Homo sapiens: one gene and its partners. The protein of the gene in region 6 interacts with the protein of the main gene of each other region in a biochemical or structural test. Each region holds a gene or a part of one and is shown on either strand. Other genes may lie near its edges. The genes, in order: RAPGEF6, KCNJ18, GUCY1A2, SCN4A, PREX1, FRMPD4 and GJA1.

Evidence for each region.
Region 1: the proteins of FRMPD4 (region 6) and RAPGEF6 interact in a test that uses a peptide from one of them, tested with the Homo sapiens proteins (one large-scale study listed by IntAct).
Region 2: the proteins of FRMPD4 (region 6) and KCNJ18 interact in a test that uses a peptide from one of them, tested with the Homo sapiens proteins (one large-scale study listed by IntAct).
Region 3: the proteins of FRMPD4 (region 6) and GUCY1A2 interact in a test that uses a peptide from one of them, tested with the Homo sapiens proteins (one large-scale study listed by IntAct).
Region 4: the proteins of FRMPD4 (region 6) and SCN4A interact in a test that uses a peptide from one of them, tested with the Homo sapiens proteins (one large-scale study listed by IntAct).
Region 5: the proteins of FRMPD4 (region 6) and PREX1 interact in a test that uses a peptide from one of them, tested with the Homo sapiens proteins (one large-scale study listed by IntAct).
Region 7: the proteins of FRMPD4 (region 6) and GJA1 interact in a test that uses a peptide from one of them, tested with the Homo sapiens proteins (one large-scale study listed by IntAct).

Annotation. Positions count from the first base shown.
Region 1 is NC_000005.10:131,457,230-131,460,729, reverse strand, and holds part of RAPGEF6 (rap guanine nucleotide exchange factor 6), read left to right. Parts: intron 1-3,500. UniProt on the Homo sapiens protein: Guanine nucleotide exchange factor (GEF) for Rap1A, Rap2A and M-Ras GTPases. Does not interact with cAMP.
Region 2 is NC_000017.11:21,691,375-21,695,322, forward strand, and holds the start of KCNJ18 (inward rectifier potassium channel 18), read left to right. Parts: upstream 1-1,148; 5' UTR 1,149-1,340; intron 1,341-3,948. UniProt on the Homo sapiens protein: Inward rectifier potassium channels are characterized by a greater tendency to allow potassium to flow into the cell rather than out of it.
Region 3 is NC_000011.10:106,938,477-106,941,976, reverse strand, and holds part of GUCY1A2 (guanylate cyclase soluble subunit alpha-2), read left to right. Parts: intron 1-1,798; coding exon 1,799-2,517; intron 2,518-3,500. UniProt on the Homo sapiens protein: Has guanylyl cyclase on binding to the beta-1 subunit. Isoform 2 acts as a negative regulator of guanylyl cyclase activity as it forms non-functional heterodimers with the beta subunits.
Region 4 is NC_000017.11:63,962,919-63,966,418, reverse strand, and holds part of SCN4A (sodium channel protein type 4 subunit alpha), read left to right. Parts: intron 1-175; coding exon 176-317; intron 318-1,741; coding exon 1,742-1,951; intron 1,952-2,210; exon of another isoform or gene 2,211-2,335; intron 2,336-2,593; coding exon 2,594-2,747; intron 2,748-3,104; exon of another isoform or gene 3,105-3,154; intron 3,155-3,500. UniProt on the Homo sapiens protein: Pore-forming subunit of Nav1.4, a voltage-gated sodium (Nav) channel that directly mediates the depolarizing phase of action potentials in excitable membranes.
Region 5 is NC_000020.11:48,650,000-48,653,499, reverse strand, and holds part of PREX1 (phosphatidylinositol 3,4,5-trisphosphate-dependent Rac exchanger 1 protein), read left to right. Parts: intron 1-2; coding exon 3-139; intron 140-793; coding exon 794-914; intron 915-1,916; coding exon 1,917-2,104; intron 2,105-2,444; coding exon 2,445-2,606; intron 2,607-3,293; coding exon 3,294-3,500.
Region 6 is NC_000023.11:12,722,473-12,725,023, reverse strand, and holds the end of FRMPD4 (FERM and PDZ domain-containing protein 4), read right to left. Parts: 3' UTR 501-2,551; downstream 1-500. UniProt on the Homo sapiens protein: Positive regulator of dendritic spine morphogenesis and density. Required for the maintenance of excitatory synaptic transmission. Binds phosphatidylinositol 4,5-bisphosphate.
Region 7 is NC_000006.12:121,442,146-121,445,645, forward strand, and holds part of GJA1 (gap junction alpha-1 protein), read left to right. Parts: intron 1-1,471; exon of another isoform or gene 1,472-1,548; intron 1,549-3,500. UniProt on the Homo sapiens protein: Gap junction protein that acts as a regulator of bladder capacity. A gap junction consists of a cluster of closely packed pairs of transmembrane channels, the connexons, through which materials of low MW diffuse from one cell to a neighboring cell.

The DNA of each region.
Region 1 (3,500 bases), on a different chromosome or scaffold from region 6:
TGAATAGAGATTAACAGAGTGGTCTTTAGAATCAGCTGCACCTGTATTTGAATCCTGCCTCTCCCATATAGTAGCAATGTGTCAGTGGAAAACTGAAGATAGGTTTTCTTATCTGTAAAATACCACCTATATCACAGTTTTTAAACAGCTAAGTCTAAAACAGAGGAATAAAGATGCCACTGATAAACACTTGGAAGGCTAGAAATGGAACCTGTTTGTAAAGGAAGCATCAAGTAAAGAATTTGAAAATTACGGGCTCAGTTTTAGAGTCCACTATGAAGAAAATTGATTGACACTGAGAGAATAGATCTCTGTATAAAAAAGAGGGTAGAAAGAAAGTGGTAGAGGTCTAAAAACCATACCTTAGTATGATGACTCAGTGTGAGGGTAAGGAAAAAGAGTCTAGCCAAAGAGATGGAGGATCAGTACAAGAAACAGAGTAGCACAGTTATGATAGTGTCATCAAAGCCAATGAAAGAGAGTGATTTGAGAGAAGATGTGATGGACAGTAGCCCAAAGAAGGGAGTGGATAGGAAAGGGCTGAGATTTGGTTAAGAGGCTTTGTTTGGTTAAAAGATTTGTTTTGTTACAAAGAATATTTGTTCTGCACATTTTCATAGCTCATGTAAAGATCATTGCTTTGTTTCTTTTGTATTCTTTTTAAGATAATTGTTTTGTATTCTTGTACTTCATGTTCAGGTAGATCAAAGAATATACTCTTTTCAGCAGAGATGGCAAAGGTGAATCATTCTGTTCTGGCTATAATTAACAACTTTTTATAATTATAAAATAATTTTAACTTTTTGAATAGACATGACATGTACATGGAAAAAATTTTAAAGATAAAGAGTACACAGCGAAAGTAACTTTGTCTCACCCAGTCCCTAATCCACCCAAATTCCTCTCCCCAGAGATACTGTTACCTTTTTTCATTCAAGAAATACTCTATCCATATAGCAAGCATATAAATATATATTTAAAACCACCTTGGCTAATTTTTTTAATTTATCTTGGAGATTATTTAAAATCAGTTCTTATAAAGTTGTCTCATATTTTTTAAACAACTATGAAGTACTCCTTTGTATTGTGGAGTGCACATTATGGATATTTCTAAATTTCCAGACTTTGGCTATTTAAAACAGTGTGTGGTGTTTACTTTTGCCATGTAGAAATTTTTTTATTTTTATGTAGATGTATTATTTTTTTTCCTGCTGGAGTTTCTGCATTTTGTGGTTAGTTAAGAACAAAGAATTGCCTAGGTTTGAATCCAGTGTTGGCACTTGTTGTCTATGTGAACTAAGTTTCCTCATTTGTCAAATGGGAAATCCTGGTAGTTCCTACCTAATAAGGTTAAGAGTATTCAATGAGCTAATACAATGAGAGCTCTTAGAACACCCTAGACAACATTTTTTATTAATCTTGAATTCATTTTTATGTAAACAGTGAGATAAAGAAATATATCTTTCTTTGTTCCAAATGACTTCTTCACCCAACATCATTAATCAATCTTTTTTTCTAAAATATGCAATGCCATCTATTATGTACTGAAATCTAACACATATTTGGGTTTATGTCTGCACTCATTGCTTCATTGATTTGTCTATTCATTTACTGTTTTAGTTGCTGAAGTGGTAAAATAGGTTTTAAGGTCTGATAGGGCTAGTCAAACCCCTTATGACTCTCTTCATACTTTTCTTTGGCTATTTCTGGCATGTTTATTTGTTTCATATCAACTTTAGAATCAATTTATGTAGTTCTTTTAAAAAGTTTTGTTGATGTCTGGGCGCGGTGGCTCACGCCTGTGATCCTGGCACTTTGGAGGCCAATGCAGGTGGATCACAAGTTCAGGAGTTCTAGACCAGCCTGACCAACATGGTGAAACCCCATCTCTACTAAAAATACAAAAAAATTAGCCAGGTATGGTGGCACATGCTTGTAATCCCAGCTACTCAGGAGGCTGAGGCAGGAGAATCACTTGAACCCAGGAGGTGGAGGTTGCAGTAAGCCAAGATCATGCCACTGCACTCCAGCCTGGGTGACAGAGCAAGACTCTGTCTCAAAAAAGAAAAGAAAAAGTTCTGTTGATGTTTTCATTGAGATTACATTAAATACCTAGATTACTTTAGTGGACATTTGATAGCTTTGTAACAATGGCTCTTGCCATCCAAGAACACTTATTCCACTTGTTTCAGTTTTCTTTTATTTCCTCTGTGGAGTTGTTTTATTAGTCTGTTTTCACACTGCTGTATAGAAATACCTGAGACTGTGTAATTTATAAAGAAAAGAGGTTTAATTAACTCACAGTTCCCCATGTCTGGGGAGGCCTTAGGAAACTTACTATCATAGTGGAAGGCGAAGGGCAAACATGGCGTGTCTTACATGGCAGCAGAGAGAGAGAGAGTGAGGGGGGAAGTGCCACACTTTTAAACCATCAGATCTCTTGAGAACTCACTGATTATCATGAGAACAGCGTAGGGGAAATCTGCCTCCATGACCCAGTCACCTCCCACTGCGTCCTTCCCCTGACATGTGGGGATTACAATTCCACGTGAAATTTGGGTGGGGACACAGAACCAAACCATATCAGTTTTTATAGTGGTGTTCATGTAAATCTTGAACATTTGTTTGAATGTTTAATATCTTTTATTGCTGTTGTGAATGGGATCCTTATATTATGAATGGGATCCTTAAGTTTTCTAATGGTTTCTGCCTAAGTATTCTAATGCATATGAATATCAGTGTTGTACCTAGTACCTTACTGCATTCTTCATGCTTCTAATAATTTTCAGTTAATATTTTGGGAGTTTTGAGTTAAACAATCTAATTTTCTTCAACTGATGATAACTTTACATCTCTCATTCCATTTATTAATAACTATTTCTCTATTTTGTCTATTTTCATCTGCTGGTGCTTCATATTAAATGATACCATTGTCCCTCAGTATCTGTGGGGCATTCGTTCCATGGCTCCTCACAGATAGCAAAATCCTCACATACTCAAGTCCTGCAGTTGACCCTGAGGAACTTGTGGATACATAAAGTCAGCATTAGCAGGTTTCACATCCAAGGAAACTGTATTTTTGATCCACATTTGGTTGTGAATGTGGAACACTCAGATACGGAGGGGTGACTGAATTTATTGAAAAAAATCTGCATATAAGTGGATCCATGCAGCAGTATTCCACGGTAGCAGGAGTTAGCCTTGTATGTGAATTGTTTTATCCTTTACTTTTTCTTAGTAAATGGAGATTGTGGCAGCATTAGGGCTGCTTACAACTCAGAGTGTCTCCCTTCTCTCCTGTCTCAAACAGATTTGTACCAAAGTGTATCACTGTGTGCTATGCCAAATAAAGGATTGTTGGCTTGGCATGGTGGCTCATGCCTGTAATCTCAGCACTTTGGGAAGCCAAGGCAGGCAGATTACTTGAGCTCAGGAATTCAAGACCAGCCTGGCCAACATGGTGAAACCCTGTCTGTACTAAAAATATAAAAATTAGCCAG
Region 2 (3,948 bases), on a different chromosome or scaffold from region 6:
ATTAATATGACATCTGAGGCCCCCTGGGGTGATGCCTCAGCCTCTGTGCCTGCACACGCTGAGCTTCCCTGATATGATGGTGTCAAGGCTGTGCCCATCTCGTCACACCTTCCCCACAAACCCCGAATAGTTTAGATCCTGGAATGGAGGGCTGGCAGGGCTTCTGTGGAGTAGCTGGGCCAGCCCCCTGGTTTGCACACAGTCAGGGTGGGTCTTGCCCAAGGCCCAGTGCCTGGAGAGTGAAGCTGGAATCTGCACCAAGACTGCAGGACTCTGGTGCTCTTAGCTGTGTCACTGTGCTATGGTTAGTCTCAGGCGGGGTTGTCACCCCTGCTGCTCGCTGCTGCCTCCCCACTGGCAGATACTCCTCTAGGAAGCACCCCTCCTGCCACTGGGTTAGACACCTCCCCTGGGCTCCAGAGGGCCCAGCGACTTATGACTGCTGACTTCTCACCGTCTGCCCTGTGAGGCAGGGTGCCCCATGAAGGCAGGCGCCCAATGCTTCCTCTTCAAGTCCTCGGTGCCCAGTGAGGACTTGAAGAGGGAGACCCAGAGAGGGACAGAGCCCTGCTCCAGGTCACACAGCAAGTTGGGGCAGAGCCAGGAGTCCTAGAAGGGCCCCAAGACCCTCCAGGTCTCCCCTGTTCGTGGGACTTAATGGAGCCCAGGGATGGGGCAGTGTCTGTGATGGCCACCCCAGCAGAGGGCACTACTGCAGGGCCTCTGTTCTCTGCTTCTCCCAGGGGCCTGGGGCCAAGGACACCCTCTGTCCCTCCTGCCCCCACCCTCTGTGAAGAAGGATGTTCTCAAGATAAAAATACCGTCAGAAACATTCCCTGGTGTTTGGTGTGACTGTCGTCCACCCTGTGGGGCCAGAATCTTCTGACCTGGCCTCACCTCAGGGCTTAAGGGTGGACATTTGCCTTTTCTAGCCGCTTGGTGCAGCCTCTTTCTGGGGTCCATATGTCCAGCCCCCATCTTTACGCCACAGAATGTGAGGGGTCAGTGTCACTCAAGGTTCCTGCAGCTTCCACTTTCTGAGCATCCTCTGTGGGCTGGGCGCATCCCGAGCATGGAACAGCGAGGCAGATCCTGCCCTTGTGCGTTTTGTGGCTCCTTGCGGGCCAGGGGGGCTTCTGAGGACATCCAGCAGGCCACAGGGAGGCTTGGGCACAGTCAGCTTTCCGTCCTGTTGGGAAGCCTGTTTCTGCTTTCAGTGCCTACGTGGTGTCAGGAACGCCGGTCACAGTGAACGCCTGCAGGACCCACACTGCTGCATCGTCTCTGTGGGACAGATACTGAAGCCAGGGCTTGGCTTACCCTCGTGACAGTCTCCCGAGGTGTGTGGGGTCTCCTCATTTTGCAGATGGGGAGTTTCAGGCCCCAGTCAGCTGGGGGGCTGCCAGGCCTCTCCAGGGAGGGTGACGGCTGCCACCTCCCAGAGACCCGCTGGGGCGAGGCCCAGTGCCCGGACTGCAGCTTCGTCACCACCTTCAATTTCATGGCACACCCTCTGAGAGGCCTGGCAGGCGACACCAGCCTCATTTTTCAGGGGAAGCTGAGCCTCAGGAAGGGGAAGTGCCTTGCCCTGTTCCGTGGGGGATTTCAGCCCCATCCTCAGCCCAGGCCCTGCCCTCCCCTGCGGGACGCTGTGGGCCAGCCCGGCCTGTTGGCCCTCAGTCGTGGTCATGGGGAAGCACTGCCCCTGCAGCCCACCTCCCCATCCAGGATTGTGACCATAACCCCGGGAAGCATTTGTGGGACTTGGCGGGGTGAGCTCACATGGCGGCTGCTGTGGCCCCTGCAGGTGGCGGGAGCTCTGGCCAGGGCATCCGGAAGGCTGGCTCCTGTTTGCAGGGTGCTGCCCTGCCCTGTGACTTCAGGAAATTCGCTTCTCTGCTCTACGTCTCAGTACCCCTGTGTAGAGTAGAGCTAATTTTGCCTTCCTCCTAGATAAAAACAAATCCAGCTGGATTTGTGGTCTGGGGAATGCCCCTTTCAGGTAGTAGGGAGTGAGGGACGAGGTTGGGAGAGCCTGGTGCAAGCCAGGTGACCAGCAGGATGTGGATAGATGCTGCTGCCCACACTTCTGGCCCCCACCCCTGCTTGGCTCCCCATGGCCCTGTGGCAATATCCGACCTTCGCTGCTCAGAGTTCCAGCTCCAGGTGACTGTGCAGGTGACTTAGCTTCTCTCAGCCTCAGTTTTCCTATCTGTCCAGAGGGGAGAATTGTCCCTCCTCCAAGGCAGGGCTGTGAGCATCGGGATGACTGCAGCCAGCTGCCAAGCATGCAGGGCCAAGCACAGTGTTGGCTCACTCGGGGAAGGGGGTGGACCCAAGTCCCTGCCGTGGAGGTCCCCAGCTGTTTGATGTTGGCTTGTGACAGAACCTCTCTGAAACTCTGCAGCTCATCCACCTGTCCATCCATCCACCCGTCCATCCATCCACCCATCCATCTCTGAACCTCTGTGTCCCCATCAGTTTTGAGGATGGAATGGCTGAGAGAGGCAAAGTGTAGGCCTGTGGCTTCTGCTCCCAGAATGATGAGGGATGGGGAAGAAGGGGCTGGGGATTGGGGGACTTGGAGGGTGAAGAGGGACTGAAGGGCCACTAGAGACCAGGCAGGCCATCCCATTTCAGAACAAGCTGAGAGAGGGGAAGTGACTCACTCAAGGTCACACAGCTTATGAGGGGCAGAGCTGGGATTTGAATCTAGGTCTGTGTGCCTGTAAACCACTGTCACCTGTCCCAGGAGGCTGATGATGTGGGGGTGACTCACCAACAGTTGCCTTAATTCCAGCCAGAAAAACCAGTGTGACAAACCAGCCTCGGCTGTAACCTTGGAAAGGGCAGGCCCCATGAACTCCATGGCTGGGAGGTGCGGAGGTGAGAAGCATGTCAGGTGGCTCACCGTGGAGATCCTCAGAGCCCCTTCCCACCAACCTCTTCTCTGATTCTCACGGCACACTGGATAGGAAGGCAGGGGGATCCCTTTGACAGGTGGGGAAATTGCATCTTTGGGATTGCAGGGACCATGTAGGATGTATGTGTACCCAAGGCAAATCTCTGGCAAATTACTGATGTGTGCCCATCCATGTAGTTAGCCATGTGCCCACCTGCTCATCCATCTAGTCATCTATCCTACTTGCCCAAACACCCTATCCATCCATCTACCCACTCATCACCCACCCTCACACTCATCCACCCATCCATCTATCCATCTACCCACCCATCCATCCACCCATCCACCCATCCATCTATCCATCTACCCACCCATCCACCCACCCATCCATTCACCCATCTGTCCATCCATCCACCCTTCCATCCCTCTATCCATTCATTTCTTTACCCACCCATACACTCATCCACCTGTCCATCTATCCACCCATCCACTCATCCACTCATTCACTCCACCCATCCATCACCCAACATTCCATCCATCCATCCATCCATGCACCCGTCACCCATTCATCCATTAATCTGTTCATCCACCCACTCAACCATATACCCACCCATCCACCCAGCCATCCCTCTATCCATTCACTTCTTCACTCACCCATCCACTCATTCACTCACCCATCCATCCACCCAATCATCTGCCCATCCATCCATCCCATTCGTCTATCCATCCATCCACCCACCCATTACCCATCCATCCACCCATCCATCCATCCATCCACCCATTCACCCATCTATCCCTCCATTCATTCATCTACCCATCCGCTCAGTCACCCACCCATCTACCCTTCTGTTCATCCATCCATCCAATCATCTACTTTCACACTTATCCATCCATCTATCCAACCATCCATCCATCCATCCATTCATCCATCCATCCATCCATCCATCTTTCCATCCTATTATCCATTCATCCACTCATCCATTCACCCATTCATCCACTCATCCATCCTTCCTCCATACAGCCATCCACCCTCACACCCAACCACT
Region 3 (3,500 bases), on a different chromosome or scaffold from region 6:
GGCAATGTGACATGAGTGGTGATATTTTTATCTTAATAAGTGACTTTCTCAACAAGTCTTGAGCATCCAATCCATGAAACCAAAATGAATATGAAATGCTTATTAATAAAGGGACTGTTTCTCACTTAGGTTTTCTACTCATTTTCCTATCACATTGATTTTAAGAAGTTCTTTGTCAAACTGACTTCTTGGCTACCAGAAGTTTTAGACTCTATAGTAAGCTCTTAAAGAATATTAGATGTGCTTTGACTATTTTAAAAACAATATTATTCACTCTGTTCATTTGCCTCACTTCTGGCTGGGAGGAACACTCAGGGAATGATAAAGGTAGGAAAGCAGCTAAGCTGTAGACAGCCTAGATTGCTCTGCACTCTAATGGGGCGCTAGCAAAGTGACCTTCTTTTCCCAGTCCTGCCTGATTTGCAGGACTTCAAATGAGATGATGGAAATGGGGCAAGAAAATATGAATATGTAAACTACATGTATTGATTTCAACCAATGTCAAAGGAGAAGCAATAGAGTTTAGGTAGAAGCTGTCTTTAATATGCAGGCCAAAATCTTTTGTATGTGTTATAGTCCTCTTTGGCACATAAATTCCCTCATTTTTCCTCATATCATCCTCAAGGGGGGGATCTTGTGATCACATGTGATCCTGCTTCTTATTACGATAGAATACATTGTGCACACTTATTTATTTTTCATTGTAATATCCAGCACTATAAGGTGGAACTCTTTTGCCAGGGCATCAGGGAGTGATTATATATGGAGAAAACTTAACAATAACCTTTAATTCTGTCTCATCAGATTCCTCCTCCATGCTTGGCTGCCCTTACTTTTGTGGGTGAAAGAATGTAAATCATTCCAGAGTTCTGTCATTATTATTTTCTTGTTTTTTCTCCTTTTCCCTGAGGTCTAGCTGACCTGCATGTCTTTCCCTGAGATTGCTAATGTAAGCCTTTTGTTTCCACCAGATAGCTTGATGCCTATCCCCATTCATGTGCCATAGATTTCTTTTCTGGTTTATATTTTCCACTTAATACATGCATTTCGATAAGAAGTAAGATGATAATATGGATGTAATATGGACATAATATGTAGGCAACTTGGATATTCTGTGAAGAATGGGGAAATCATTAAGAAAAAGAAAAATATATTATTTATGATAACTACTGCAAGGCTATTGAAAGGTGAACAGCTAGATTAGCAACATTTAAAAAGCTGATGCTCTGGGAGTTAGGGAGAAGGAAGGGATAAACAGGATTTTTAGGGCAGTGAAAATGCTCTAAGTGATATGATAAGTGTATACATATCATTATACATTTGTTTAAGCCCACAGAATATACAATATTAAGAGTGAGCCTTAATGTAAACCATGGAATTTGGATGATAATAATGCATCATGTAGGTTCATGGATTGTAATAAATGTACCACTCTGGTGGGAGATATGATAATGGGGCAGGCTGTGCATGTGTCGGGGCAGAGAGATATGGGAAATAACTGTGCCTTCTGCTCAATTTTGCTGTGACTCTAAAACTGGTCTAAAAATATGTAGTCTATTTAAAAACAAACAAAAAGGTTCATGTTCATTAACATTTTAGAGGCATCCTGAAGATGAACTGAAATTTATATTTTCTGATTCAAGATGAGTGAATTAACCTATGTGGAAATTTGTGGATCTAAGAGAAATAACCTTTGTTACTTTATTCAGTAGTTACTCTTTTGATAAGCACTTAAAAAGCTATAAATTCAATTATTTATATTAGACTTCACTAACATTTGCTTCCCATTTACCTCTAGGTTTGAAGTTTGAGGAAATTCAAAAAAGATTTGGTGAAGAGTTCTTTAATATATGCTTTCATGAGAATGAGAGAGTCCTTCGAGCTGTAGGTGGCACTTTGCAGGACTTTTTTAACGGCTTTGATGCTTTGTTGGAACACATTAGAACTTCTTTTGGAAAACAGGCCACTCTGGAGTCACCATCTTTCCTATGCAAAGAGCTCCCTGAAGGTACTCTCATGCTCCACTACTTCCACCCTCACCATATTGTGGGGTTTGCAATGCTGGGGATGATTAAGGCTGCAGGAAAGAAGATCTATCGGCTGGATGTGGAAGTGGAACAGGTTGCAAATGAGAAGCTATGCTCTGATGTTTCAAACCCAGGCAATTGTAGCTGTCTTACTTTCCTTATCAAAGAATGTGAAAATACTAATATCATGAAGAACCTTCCACAGGGAACCTCCCAAGTTCCTGCGGACCTCAGAATTAGCATCAACACCTTCTGTAGAGCCTTCCCTTTCCACTTGATGTTTGATCCCAGCATGTCAGTCCTTCAGTTGGGGGAAGGTCTAAGGAAGCAGCTTCGATGTGACACTCACAAAGTGCTCAAGTTTGAGGACTGCTTCGAGATTGTATCTCCAAAGGTTAATGCCACCTTTGAAAGGGTCCTGCTGCGACTGTCTACCCCGTTTGTGATTAGAACCAAGCCTGAGGCTTCTGGCTCTGAAAATAAAGACAAGGTAAGTGCTATGGACTTGAGATGGTGATGGGAACTAGAAGAGTGGATAATTATTTCAGTAAATTACATGGTGGCTGTACTTGTAATTATTTAGGCAAGAGAGCTTAAAGTGCCATTTAGAAGATTACTGGTCCCTGGATGTATGTAAAAAGATTTGGCCTCATTCCCAGCCATTTTGCATAGTGTCTGCCTCCTCCATTAATTTATTTCAGCATATAAAAAGAAGACATTTATTAATACTAGCTATAGCAATTACAAAAATGATAGAACTCACTAAAAACCTGATAATATAAACACATGAATATTTCCACTGAATGTAGTCAAACTATGAGAAATATAGCATTTCAATATTGTGGGGCGTGACTGCAATATCTTTAAATACATATGCTAAAAGTTACCTTCACTTTGAATATGTTCTTTTCTAAATTTCATAATCTGGGAACATCTGGTTTACATCCTATTTTTGTCTTAATATGCAGAATAATGTATTCCCCAAAAGCTGAGAATTGACTATCTCGAGACTTCTGTTTAAATTTTAGTATTAAAATAGAGATTCATTGCTTTAGAACATGATCTCTAGTTGAGAGAATAAAGTGAAGACTAGGAAATTTTTTGTGGATTTCTTTGAATCCCCTTTGGGAAATCTGGATTATAAATTATAAATAATTGATGAAAAGACACCAGAAATAAATCTTAAAATATTTGGGTTTAAATGAACATTTTGTCCCTCAGGTAAAATATTTTAAAAAGTCAACATTAAAATAGATAATAAAATGTAAAGAAAAATAAACCATGATTTTTTATGTTTAGTAATATGCTTTCAGTGATTAAACGGAAAAACAACATTAATTTCCAGGACAGAAATTTGTATAGTTCCATTCAGTTTCCAGTAGAGTGTCTTTTCAACATTTTGTACTAGGGTAAATAAAGTTCTTTTAGGCTATTTAGCCTGTTTCCAAGCATTTGAGGGAAGCTATTAGCTAT
Region 4 (3,500 bases), on a different chromosome or scaffold from region 6:
AGAGATGAGGACCTGGGGGGCATGGGAGTGCAGGGAAACCTGTGGGCATGGATGGAATACTTTTCTGTTTGGGGGACACAGGCAGAACTGACGGAATTTTTCCCTTGGGGTCCCTATCTGCCCCCAGCTGGAGTGCTCCTCCCACCCTAAACCCAGCCCCCTGTCCTATTCCTAGGCACTGCCCTGAGGGTTATGAGTGCATCAAGACCGGGCGGAACCCCAACTATGGCTACACCAGCTATGACACCTTCAGCTGGGCCTTCTTGGCTCTCTTCCGCCTCATGACACAGGACTATTGGGAGAACCTCTTCCAGCTGGTACAGCTGCCCCCACCCTGCCCCCCAACCCTACAGCCACTCCCCCTCCATCCCTGCAGCCTCTTCAGGGCCTGATGGGGCCTACCACAGGATGGCCAACCCCCGAACTGGGCCATCTCCTCATGGACTCCCGCAGTGCCCTTATAGGAGCTTGTGCTCTCTGAAACTAGACACCTGCCCCGAGCCAAGCCACAGCTTTAATTCTTTCCACACCTTTGCTTTCAGAGCCAAGGTCTGGACCTAGCATAGGCACAAGCCCAGGACCCCCTAGGCCTCATGATAGCCAGTAGGGCAGCTTAGAAATCCAATGCTGCCTGCCGGGCGCGGTGGCTCACGCCTGAAATCCCAGCACTTTGGGAGGCAGAGGTGGGCGGATCACGAGGTCAGGAGTTCGAGACCAGCCTGGCCAACATAGTGAAACCCCATCTCTACTAAAAATACAAAAATTAGCCGGGTATGGTGGCACGGGCCTATATTCCCAGCTACTCAGGAGGCTGAGGAGGGAGAATTGCTTGAACCCGGGAGGCGGAGGTGGCAGTGAGCCGAGACCACGCCATTGCACTCCAGCCTGGGCGACAGAGCGAGACTCCGTCTGAAAAAAAAGAAAGACAGAAATTCGATGTTGCCCATACTTTATTTGCCTTCTACTGTTTGCAGGGAAGGCAGGCTGAGCCTGGAGTGACAGTGCCTTCTGATGCCATGTGATGTTTCTAACATTGATGGTGTTGATAACAATAACAAAAATAATAACAGCTACTGGCTGGGTGCAGTGGCTCATGCCTATAATCCTAGCACTATGGGAGGCCGAGGCAGGCAGATCACTTGAGGTCAGAAGTTTGAGACCAGCCTGGCCAGCATGGCGAAACCCATCTCTACAAAAAATACAAAAATTAGCCAGGTTTGGTGGCAAACACCTGTAATCCCAGCTACTCAGGAGACTGAGGAAGGAGAATCACTTCAACCTGGGAGGTGGAGGTTGCAGTGAGCCGAGATCACACCGCTGCACTCCAGCCTGGGCAACAGAGTGAGACTACGTCTAAAAATAAATAAATAAATTGATTAAATAATAATAATAGCTACTATTTGTTGAGTTCTTACTAGGTGCCAGGCACTGTGGCAAAGCTAGAATTCAAGCTGACCCCAAACCCATGTTCACCAATTTTCTATCCTGGCTCTCTGATAACAGGATGCCTGGCTTCGGTCCTCCTCTGAGCCAGGAGACCAGAAACGTTTGAGTCCCAAGTAGATATTTTGAAGTTCCCCAGAACATGGCTCAGCATGCCAATGACGGCCATCAGTCCCCCAGGCTCTGTGAGGGAGGGGCTCTGCTTACCCATGCGGGCAATGGATGTATGGAAAGGGGCACTGGGTCAAAGGAGGTGGACGTCATGGGACCCCTCCACTCCCTCTCCCTCCACTCCCAGACCCTTCGAGCAGCTGGCAAGACCTACATGATCTTCTTCGTGGTCATCATCTTCCTGGGCTCTTTCTACCTCATCAATCTGATCCTGGCCGTGGTGGCCATGGCATATGCCGAGCAGAATGAGGCCACCCTGGCCGAGGATAAGGAGAAAGAGGAGGAGTTTCAGCAGATGCTTGAGAAGTTCAAAAAGCACCAGGAGGAGCTGGAGAAGGTCTGGACTCAGGGAAAGGAGATAGAGGACCCAGGGTTCTACCTGCCCTCAGCCGGGGCTGCCACTGGCTTCTCCCTGGGGGGCCGAGGGTGAGGGAGGGTACAGGGGTAGGGGTTTTGAGGCAGAAGGAGCAGAAGGCCCTGGGCTGGGAGCTTTGCTGGTGGCAGGGGGATGGAGGGATCCAAGCAGTAGAAAAAGCATTTCTCTGCTCTGTGCCTCAGTTTCCCTGTCTATAACAAGGAATCTGGAGTAGCTAAACCTGAAGTATTCTTCCAGCTCAAATATTTCTGATTTTGTGATGCTTTCTGGGTAGTGGATAGGTCCATACTGAGGGAAGGGCAGGTCCTGATGAGGCCACAGGGAGCGGCTGACCAGTTTCTCATTCTGTCAACAAGTGGAGGGTTAGTCAGGGCATCAGAGTCAAGGGTCTTCAGGGCAGAGGGTCTTTAGTCACTTTGGTCCCTACCCTGTCACCCCCACCACCATGGAGGTTGGTCCCTCCCCCACCTGCACTAAGTTTGACACAGGCCAGGAAGAGGGGCTGCCACCCTGAAGGACTCTGGAAGAAGCTCTGAGGGTCAATTAGTCCATCCCTCTGGCTCAGAGCTGGACTTCCTGCCAGTCACTCTTGCTGGTCTACAGGCCAAGGCCGCCCAAGCTCTGGAAGGTGGGGAGGCAGATGGGGACCCAGCCCATGGCAAAGACTGCAATGGCAGCCTGGACACATCGCAAGGGGAGAAGGGAGCCCCGAGGCAGAGCAGCAGCGGAGACAGCGGCATCTCCGACGCCATGGAAGGTGAGTGCCTTGTGCCCCCGTGCCCACTTAGGTAGGGGTGGAGCCTGGCTGGACTGGATTCAGGAGGATAGGGATGCCATGGAAGGTGAGTGCCCTGTGCCCCCTCTACCCATTCAGGCCCCTGAGGTCAGGGTGGGGCCTGGCTGGACCAGCTTCAGGACAGTAACTTAATATTGGCATAGAAGAAATGGCTATATTTATACTATATTTATCACAGCCATTTCTGGCTGTCACAAATATAGTCCTGTCTTAACCTGGCCCAGTTCTAGCTGCAAGGCCAGGCTGCTATGGGAACTGGGGGCTTCCGGGAGGGCCTTGGGGACTGCCCAATGGGAAGCACAGGCTAATAATACTAACCAGAAGGCCCAATGTTCCGGAAACTGGACATCCTGCTCCTCAAGTGTTCTCTGGGTAAAAGTTAAAGGCCAAAAGTCAAATTCTGCCCAAACAGAGTGACAGACTCCCCAATCCCTGTGCCACATGCTGAATCTCAGAAGAATAAGGATGTCATGATGAGAGAGGGTGAATAGACACGACACGACAGATGGATGGACAGATGGATGGACGGACGGATGGATGGATGGATGGATGGATGAGAGGGAGGGAAGTAGGGAGGCAGGAGGGAAGGAGGAAGCACAGGAAAAAGGGACAATAGAGAAAAGGAATTCTGACACACAGAGATGTGGTTCCCTCCCCAGGTCGGCTTGCCTTGTGCCAGGGAGTTGGGGGCCCTGCAGGACTTTGCAGATCTCT
Region 5 (3,500 bases), on a different chromosome or scaffold from region 6:
AGGCTCTGAGGCCATGGCTGCAGGGCTCTGTGCTGGTCAGTGCATTCTGAAGGTCAATGGCAGCAACGTGATGAACGATGGTGCCCCTGAGGTCCTGGAGCACTTCCAGGCATTCCGGAGTCGGCGCGAAGAGGCCCTGGTAAGTTTACTGGAAACCGGGGCCGTCAAAGAAGTCCTGCTGAGTGGGGGTGGGTGGCTGAGGGCTGTCCTCTCTTTAGAGAAAAGCCTGCATGTACCACTGGTTGTGAGTAGGGTGGAGCTGCTGACCCAACAAGAGGGAGCTGGGCCTGAGCTTTGTGCTCCCGCTGCATCCTTAAACCAGAGTTGCTGAGCCATGATACCCGGGGGTCTCGGTTTTCACAGCTGTGAAATGGGTGTGACCAGACCCTCTCTCCTCACCACATAGGCATGTTGGGCACATAGTCAAGTGGGTTGGGAAAGTGGATACTCCATTTGGTTGGGGGCCAGGGTTCTGGTGGAGGGCGAGATTCCCTCATTGATTGATTCACTGGTTCACTCAGTGTGTGTGTGTTGGGCACCTGCTGTGCACCAGGCATGTTTGTAGACCCTGGGGACACAGGAGAGACGTGTCTGCACCCATGTCCCTGCCTCACATTTTCACATCCCCTGGCTTCTGTATGGAGCATAGACTGTGCACGGTGAGGGCTGAGTGTGACTGGTGGTCAGTGAGTTTCCAGAGCTCTGGAACCCAGGGGCAGTTCACACCTCGGCCCTGTCCCCTCCTCCCTACCTGCCGGCACCATGGCTGTCCCCTTACTCTGGCTTCTGGCAGGGCCTGTACCAGTGGATCTACCACACCCATGAGGATGCCCAGGAAGCACGAGCCAGTCAGGAGGCCTCCACTGAGGACCCCAGTGGCGAGCAGGCCCAGGAGGAAGACCAGGCTGATTCAGGTAATAGACGGGGCATGGCATGACAGGAGCTTCCAGAGGGACTGAGACTCCGGAGGGGCTGGGTCCTCTCCTGTTGTCCCCTCCCCTCCCCTCCTCCCAGCCAGTCCACCTCCATGCCAGCAGGTTTGTTTTTTTTTTCCTTTTTGGAGACAGGTTCTGGCTCTGTCACCCAGGCTGGAGTGTAGTGTTGTGACCACAGCTCACTGCAGCCCCAACCTCCCTGGTTCAAGTGATCCACCTCAGCCTCCGGAGTAGCCAGGATCACAAGCGTGTACCACCACACCTGGCTAATTTTTTAAATTTTAGAGTTTTTTTTTTAGAGATGAGGTCTCCCTATGTTGCCCAGGCTGGTCTCTTAACTCCTGGGCTGAAGCAATCTTCTTGCCTCGGCCTCGCAGAGTGCTGGGATTACAGGTGTGCACCACTGCGCACGGCCGCGATGCCCACGATGTTATGTCAGTTTCTGATGGCTGCTATAGCAAAGTGCCCCAAACCCAGCAGCTTAAACAACACACAGTTACTACTTAAATTTTGGAGGTCAGAAGTCCGAGTCCCACTGGGCTGAAATCATGGTGTCCACAGGGCTGTGGTCCTCCTTGGGCTCTCGGGGAGAATCTGTTTCCTTGCCCGTTTCAGCTCCCTGGTCCAAGCCACTATCATTTCTTACCAGGACGGTGGCAGTAGCCTGCTCATGGCTCTCCCTGTTCTGACTTCCTCTCCTCCAAGGGGCTATTCCCCCAGATGAGAAGAGAACCTTCCGATGGCTCCCTCTGTCCTCAGGGCCAGGCCTTGGATGGCTTGTGTGACCTTGTCCAGACTGGCTCTCCAACACCTTCCATCACTTCCCCACTCGCCTCTCTACTCTGGCGGAATGTACTCCTGCCCTGGGGCCTTTGCACTTGCTGTTCCCACTGCCTGGAAGGCTTCCTCCAGAATCCTCCTCGCCTCGCCTTCCTCCCTCCCTCTGATCTCTGCTCAGATGTCACCTCTTTTGGCTTCCAGCCTTCCCACTGCTGTCCCTGGGTCCCCGGCTGAGCCTGTGTGAGGACAGCCCCATGGTCACCCTGACTGTGGACAACGTGCACCTGGAACACGGCGTGGTGTATGAGTATGTGAGCACGGCAGGCGTCAGGTGCCATGTGCTGGAGAAGATCGTGGAGCCCCGCGGCTGCTTCGGCCTCACCGCCAAGGTCTCCTTGGGCACTGCCTGGCCCTGCCCTACCCTGGGGGATTGAAGCCAGTTTCTCTTATCAAAGGTTGGGAGAAGGAGTTGGGTGGGACACCCGAATCCCATTTCCTCAGGCTTAGCCTGGAGTCCTGAATTCTGGTCCTTGTCCCACCACTAGGTAGCGTGGGACTGTGCAGAGTGGCTTGTCCCTTTAGCCTCAGTTTACTCCCGTGCAATATGGGCCAGCAACACACCTGACTTCCCGGGGGGTATTACGAGTAGTACAGGAGTCACTGTGGGTGAACCGCTTAAAATCTTCCCGGCACACAGGGAATGCTCAGTAGCTGTTGACATTTCTGCAGATCCTCGAGGCCTTTGCTGCCAATGACAGCGTCTTCGTGGAGAACTGCAGGCGGCTCATGGCCCTGAGCAGCGCCATCGTGACCATGCCCCACTTTGAGTTCCGCAACATCTGTGACACCAAGCTGGAGAGCATTGGCCAGAGGATTGCCTGCTACCAGGAGGTGCCTGCGTGCTCCCTCCGGGGTCTCTGCCACAGGTCCCAGACATAGCATCTCAGCCTGGGATATTTGGGTTGTAAATTACAAAGCCCAACCCAACTCAGCTGAAACAAACAGGAGAATGTATGGTGTGTATTACTGAAAAGGACGGAGGTGAACTTATCACATCATAGCAGTGCGGCCTCTCCGCATCTCCTGGCTTCGTTTTCCTTAGCGCTGGGTTCACTCTCAGGCAAACCCTTCTCATGTGGTGGGGACACGTTGGCCCTTGATAGCTCTAGCCTCAGCAAGCCCAGGAGAAAATTAACTCCAAGGGAGTTCTGGTTGGCTTGGCTTAGGTCACTTGCCTCACCTGGTTCCAATCGCCATAGGGATGGAGAGGCACGTTGACCCTGAACCTCATGAACTGAGGGTGGGGCAGAGACAATGCCTCAAGGATGGTTCAGGGGCAGCCAAAATGGAGCCATGCATGGGGTGGGCACCCCGAGGCCTTGGGTTCCTCCAGGCCTTCCCTGCAGTCCTGAGCCGTGAAACACAGTCCAGGGGTTCCCCTTCTCATTTGGAGCTACTGGCATTTTGTCCAACTGTGGGGCATCTGGCCTAGGCCAGGATAAAGTGGGTACTGGGTATGGGCCAATATTTCCAGACCCTGCCCTGTGATTCACGACCTTACGGCCTCCACTTTCTCAGTTTGCAGCCCAACTGAAGAGCAGGGTCAGCCCACCCTTCAAACAAGCCCCCCTGGAGCCCCACCCGCTGTGTGGCCTGGACTTCTGCCCCACCAATTGCCACATCAACCTCATGGAAGTGTCCTACCCCAAGACCACCCCCTCAGTGGGCAGGTCCTTCAGCATCCGCTTTGGACGCAAACCCTCCCTCATCGGCCTTGACCCGGAG
Region 6 (2,551 bases):
GACAATGGTTATCTTTGGAAGTTGGGTTTAAGGGGATTATTACTTTCTCCATCATTTATTTCTGTAATGTTTATTTGATAATATTAAGGAATTCCCAATTTTTAAAATGCAAAAACGTCATTGTGGTTATGTTTAAAAGTTCTCACAGGATATTCTTACTGAAATATTCATGGGCTAAGCACTATGATGTCTGGGACTTGCTTGTAAATCATACAGTGGGAGAGGAGGTGGGTAGAAATACAGAAAATAAGATTAGACATGAATCGGTAGGTAATGAGTCCACATGAATTCATACGATTGTGTCTACTTTTGTTTGAAAGATTTGTGATAAAAGATTAATAAAAATGGTAGGAGATAAACTTGGCAAAGTAGACTGGGGACTAAACATAAAGAACCGTGAGTATAAGGAAGGTTTATTCTCCAGTTCAGTGCTCTCCAGATTTCAGTGAATGCAACCCTACCTGCGACAATATTGTCACATGCATGCACCAGGCATATGCTTATTTATTCATTCATTCATTTATTTATTTAAAATTATGTACATGTACCATTGTACTATTATGCCATTATAAAACATACACAAACATAAAAAAGCTAGATAAAAATAAGCACAAGTATTGTTCTAATATGTTCTTCCTACACTCTATGGACCTGGACCCCAGTTAGGAGCCCCATGCTTAGTGAATGTGGGGGCCCCTTGAGGTTTTCTGAATAGCAAAGAGTTTATTTATAAGAAACAGAAACTTACTGGCGCAGTAATGGGAGGTTGATTAGAAGGACCCAGAGCTACTTCCCTGAGGCTTCTCAAAGAACTCCAATGGACTGGGAAGTTGTTCTAACTAGATACGTAACTTGAACAAGGATGGCCACTTCCTTGTACACTTCTTTTACATATATGCAATACACATAATGTGTTCTGCACACAGTCAGGATACAATATGCATATAAAACAAACATTCCCCCACATATTATCTTGGGCAATATATTTAACACAACGATTATGATGATAATAATAGCTAACATTAATTGAATACTTACTCTCTGCCAGGTATTGTGGTAAGAACTTTACATACACATTTTTACTCAAAACTCATGACAACCCTATGGAAATCGATCTTATAATTGATTTTCATTTTATTATGAGGAAATTGAGACTAGAAAAAGTAGCTTTCCCAACATAAAAGGGCTAGAAAATGGCAGAGTCAAAATTTTAATCAAGATGTTTCTGACCCCAAACCCCATATCCGTAAGAACTCATCCATATTGCCTCCAGAGAGAATAGTGTCCAAACCAGCAGATTGTTGTGATGATTAAATGAGATAATATAGTTAATATGCTTAGCACACTGTCTGACATAGGGCACACATCCTATTAATAGGTTAGGATTTTAGTACACAGAATGATATTTACTAAGATTTTCCACAGTAAACACCACTAATATCTCTCAATATCAAAACACCAATATTTATAATTATAATTGTAATGAAATAATGTTTTATTATTTAGTTAAACATTATTTATAATAACACACACCTAAACTCCTTTCCTTTGCTGCCATCCATAACCACGTGCGGCTTTTGTTGTTGAGTCCCTGTGGAATGGCTGACTAGAGAGAGATTGCAATTGTGGACTGTGTTATGACTCCTTCTCAGCAGGCTACAAAAGTAGAAATATTTGCACCTGGTGTACTCCCATCATGTTCTTAAGGAGCCACCTGTCTAAGTAGGAGTGCATGTAACTTGAGCACTGAATGACCCAGGAAATACATATATACATATCGATTTTATTTTATGACTGCAGGGTACTTTTAGAGATGTGACAGTCCTGGAAAGTTCTTTGCATTCCATTGGTTTCACTTGAACTGGTCAAATATACCACTTCCATTTCTTTCTTTTTTTTTTCAGATTTCATATTTTTATCAGCCAATCCAGATTAAGTATTTATTTAATAAATACTTAACTATTTACTCATGGCTCCCATGATTACAGTAGCCATCTCTCCCTGATTTTCTGGAACATCCAAGATTTGAGATTTTGTCCCAGTACTACGCTATAATTCCAAATTTGACTGGCAGCCTTAGCCTCTGTAGAGGCGGTGATGCATGAAGCCCTATGCTGAGAGCTGTGATCTGAGATGAGACTCACAGGTGCTGGTGTGTGGTCTGGTCTACATTACTGAATCTGTACTTAATTTTGATGATCATTAAATGTTCCTTTTTTTAAGTTTGCAAATACTTTACTAAATGTCCTATCACTCTAAAGGGAATTTTAAGTTTCGTAGTTGAGTTGGGATGAGGGGAAGATAATGTCTTTGGTTTGCAGATTTTTGACATTTAGTCAAAGCAGATCTTTCCATCAAATAATTAATTTTGGTATTATTAATTCCATACATTTTATGTAATGAGATATTCTATAACTCTAGGTGTTACCTAGGAAACTGCCCATCATCCCCTCTGTTCTTCTCCCCGGGAAGTTTTTTAAATGCTAGAACCACTGTGAAGAGCATTTGTGCTGACACAGTAGAATCCATCCCCACCAATTTGTAGCCCCAG
Region 7 (3,500 bases), on a different chromosome or scaffold from region 6:
TATCAAATTTCACTTTAGTTTTCAATAATCCTATTTACCTTTATTTAAGTCTCCATTCTCAACTCATTACATTTGTCTCTTCTTGAGAAAAATATTTAAAGTCGATAGTAAAATACTTAATTCTAATAACTATTAGTATATTAATGGCATGGAAAGACTTGACTGCAACTTCGGCACATGCTCTAGCAAAAGGCATAGTCAAATGTAATTTAAAATCAAAGCTTTATTTTTAAGAGATCTCATTTGAATTAAAGCGTTTAAGTTCTTCTGCTCTCAGGGAGCTGCAGATGGAGATGTAAGGAGTGACAAGGGGCTGTGGAGCCAAGGCTGACCTCAATGCCGGGTGCCCAGAGAGCTGCTGCTCCTGGTACTCAGCCCCTTGGATTTTTTAGACTGTTCCTTCTGCTTTCCTGACATTTCTCCCACTCCTAAATATTTTGAACAAGAAAGGGCCAGAAATGTCAAGAATAGTAACAAACACCAAAAAAACCTTACTTCCTAGGCCCCACCTCCAGAAATTCAGATTCATTCAGACTGGTGAAGACCAGGAATGTATGTTTTTAACAAATGCTGCCAAGTGACTGTGATGCAGTTCAGGAAAGGGGCCAGAGGAGCCTCAGGCTGGTCACACTTAGTGCCTGTAGCTTTGGGCATCCATCCAGTCTAGGGGGCCATGAAGAGCAATGGAAATGTAATCTAACATGGTGCATAGACGGCAAAAAGCGTGGTCCAGCTGCTAAGACTCTGCTCTTAACAAGAACTTTGCACAACTCCTCTTAGACAGACCTTGGTCTACATATAAAGCACCAACTCAGTATCCTAGAGGTGAAGGCATGAATATATGTGATATGTCCAGCTGCGTTGGTCTTCTCATGTATCAAATAAGAAATATACCTGTTTCCCCCTGGTGAATAAAAGTGCAGTTTATAGTCTGTAGATCAATGCCAGGGATTCTGTAAACATATAATTATGCCCTTTTATTATAAGAGGGTATTAACTTACCATACAAGACTTGGAAAAATGAAGATATTAAACTAGTTTGGGAAGGTGCAGCAGGGAGGAACAACCAGTTGCCAAAATTTGATTCATGGCAAAGTGAGCAACTACCAAAAAAAAAGGGAACAATTTTTGTTACCTGTTTTTGGGCAGCTGTCACATTAAACATTATTTGATGGTATCTATGATAGTGGAGATCGACAGGTAGCTACATGTTACAGGATACTCGGTGTCCAATTCGATAATTCGTATCTTATTAAGATGAAAGAGTATAACTCATTAATGCAAATGACAACTGCATGGGTGCTTAAAGAAAAGACAACTTTGCAATTAAGTTACTAGAGTATTAAAAAAGAACTAATGAAGAGCTGTCTGATGACTTAGTTCACATACTATGGAACTGTGGAGTGTTTTTGTAGAATCTCAAAATTATATGAAAGTCATGTATCATGAATTTTTTTATAGAATGTAAATAAAGACTATACTTTCAGGGATCATTTCTATAGTTTGTTACTAGAATGTAAATAAACTTAGTGATGAATTACTATAAGCATCTACACAATCATATTTTACTTTGAGTAATGATGAAATCCTAGCTAAAATAACTTCTGTTCTGCCTGGTCATATTTCTAGATATGATAGGTTTGTCTTCAGCTCTATCGTTGCATGAATGTGATGAGATGTATGCAAAGTTTATCTTTTTATACTTGATTGTTTTTGTTATTTTTCCCCTAGCAATTGAAATATGTGAGCAAAAGCAGATGACACTGGCAAAATACTGTAATTTTTTACAAACAGAATTAGGGCCAATTTTACACATCATCACATAGAAACTGTCTATTGATATAGCTCCAAAGATTCTGTTTGTCTGACCCTCATGGACTATACTTCTTCATTTCCAGTCTAGTATTTTCTGCTAAATTGTAGGGTTTTTTTTTCTTTCACATTCTCTCACCATCAAACTGTCCATCACGGCTAAATTACTCCCTCACTTCAAGCCTTTCCTTGGCTATTCAACTGTCTTTGTCAGCCTTTCAAGCCTTTGTTCTTATTTGACTGCTGTTTTAAATTGATGCTGTTTTCATACATCAATTTCACTTCCTAACTTGTCACTTCAGAATCTAAAATGACCCTTCCTAAGTAAAAGGGAAGCTCCCTTTCTTATGACCACTGGGGGAGTGTTATTTCTGTGGCCTTCACACCCACCTCCCACTCTTACTCAGCATTCTTTGGCACTAGTCCCTGGGCTGTCATCAAATGTACCCATGATACCGTGGTACCATCTAGCTGGTGCATAGTTTAGCTTTATGGCTCAGCCATCTCTTCTTTGTTCGGTCCAGGAAATCCCAGGTCAGGTGCCCATTTCATTTTTTCTTGTTCTCTATGGCCAGAAGATGCAGTCATTAGACAGAAATGTAATGTTGCTTACTGAGGAAGAAGACTCCCCTGGATTTCATTTACTTCCTACAAGGAGATACAGCTCAATAGTTCAACACCAGAAGAGAAACTCCTTTATATTCAGATAGTGAACATATTTCTAAGAAGCCTAAATAATCCTACCTTTAGATACTCTATTTAGAATTCATTACTAAGCTCCTGCAAAGTCTTAGCTTTGCTTGTTTTTAATTATTAAACAATCTTTGACTAATTTGTCCTTTTCTAAATCCTCCAATTACTACTATGTGCTGAAAATTAGCCTATATTCCCTATGCCTGCCACATCATGTTACTCACTTCTTCCCAGCTTTCAGCCCTGGCTAAGGTTGTGTATATCAAAGCCTGGAAACATTTCTAGCTTTAGCGCAGCCTTACTGTACTTTTAAAACCAGTGTGAGGCATTGAAAAGACTTGCCCGGGGATTGTGAATCTTCTTCTGGCTCTGTCTATAGCTAAATATTTCCTATACCCTGAGAACCTCTGAGAACCTCAATTTTTATCAGCTAAATGGATAATCGGCAATTAGAAGCATAAATTGAACTAGACAACTTTGGGGATTCTTGTTGGTTTCTACTGACTTACATCTTTTTAGTGAGACGGAGTCTCTCTTTGTCACCCAGGCTGGAGTGCAGTGGCGTGATCTCTGCAAGCTCCGCCTCCCGGGTTCAAGCGATTCTCTTGCCTTAGCCTCCCGAGTAGCTGGGACTACAGGCTCCCACCACCACACCTGGCTAATTTCTTGTATTTTTTGTAGAGACGGGGTTTCACCATGTTAGCCAGGATGGTCTGAATCTCCTGACCTCATGATCCACCCGCCTCCCAAAGTGCTTATAGGCGTGAGTGCATTATAGGCGTGAGCCACCACGCCTGGCCAGATCTTTTTCTTATCCTCAGTAATGGAGAAGGCGTGGACTTTAGATAGCTAGATATTGATAAGAAGTTAAATGGGATGTATAGCCTGAGGGTCCAAAGCCCAGTAAGGGAACTTTAAAGTATATAACAATGAAAGATGAAAACCAATCTTTTCTGGCTGGAGAAAACACCCTGAAGTAGGTTTTGTTTGTTTGT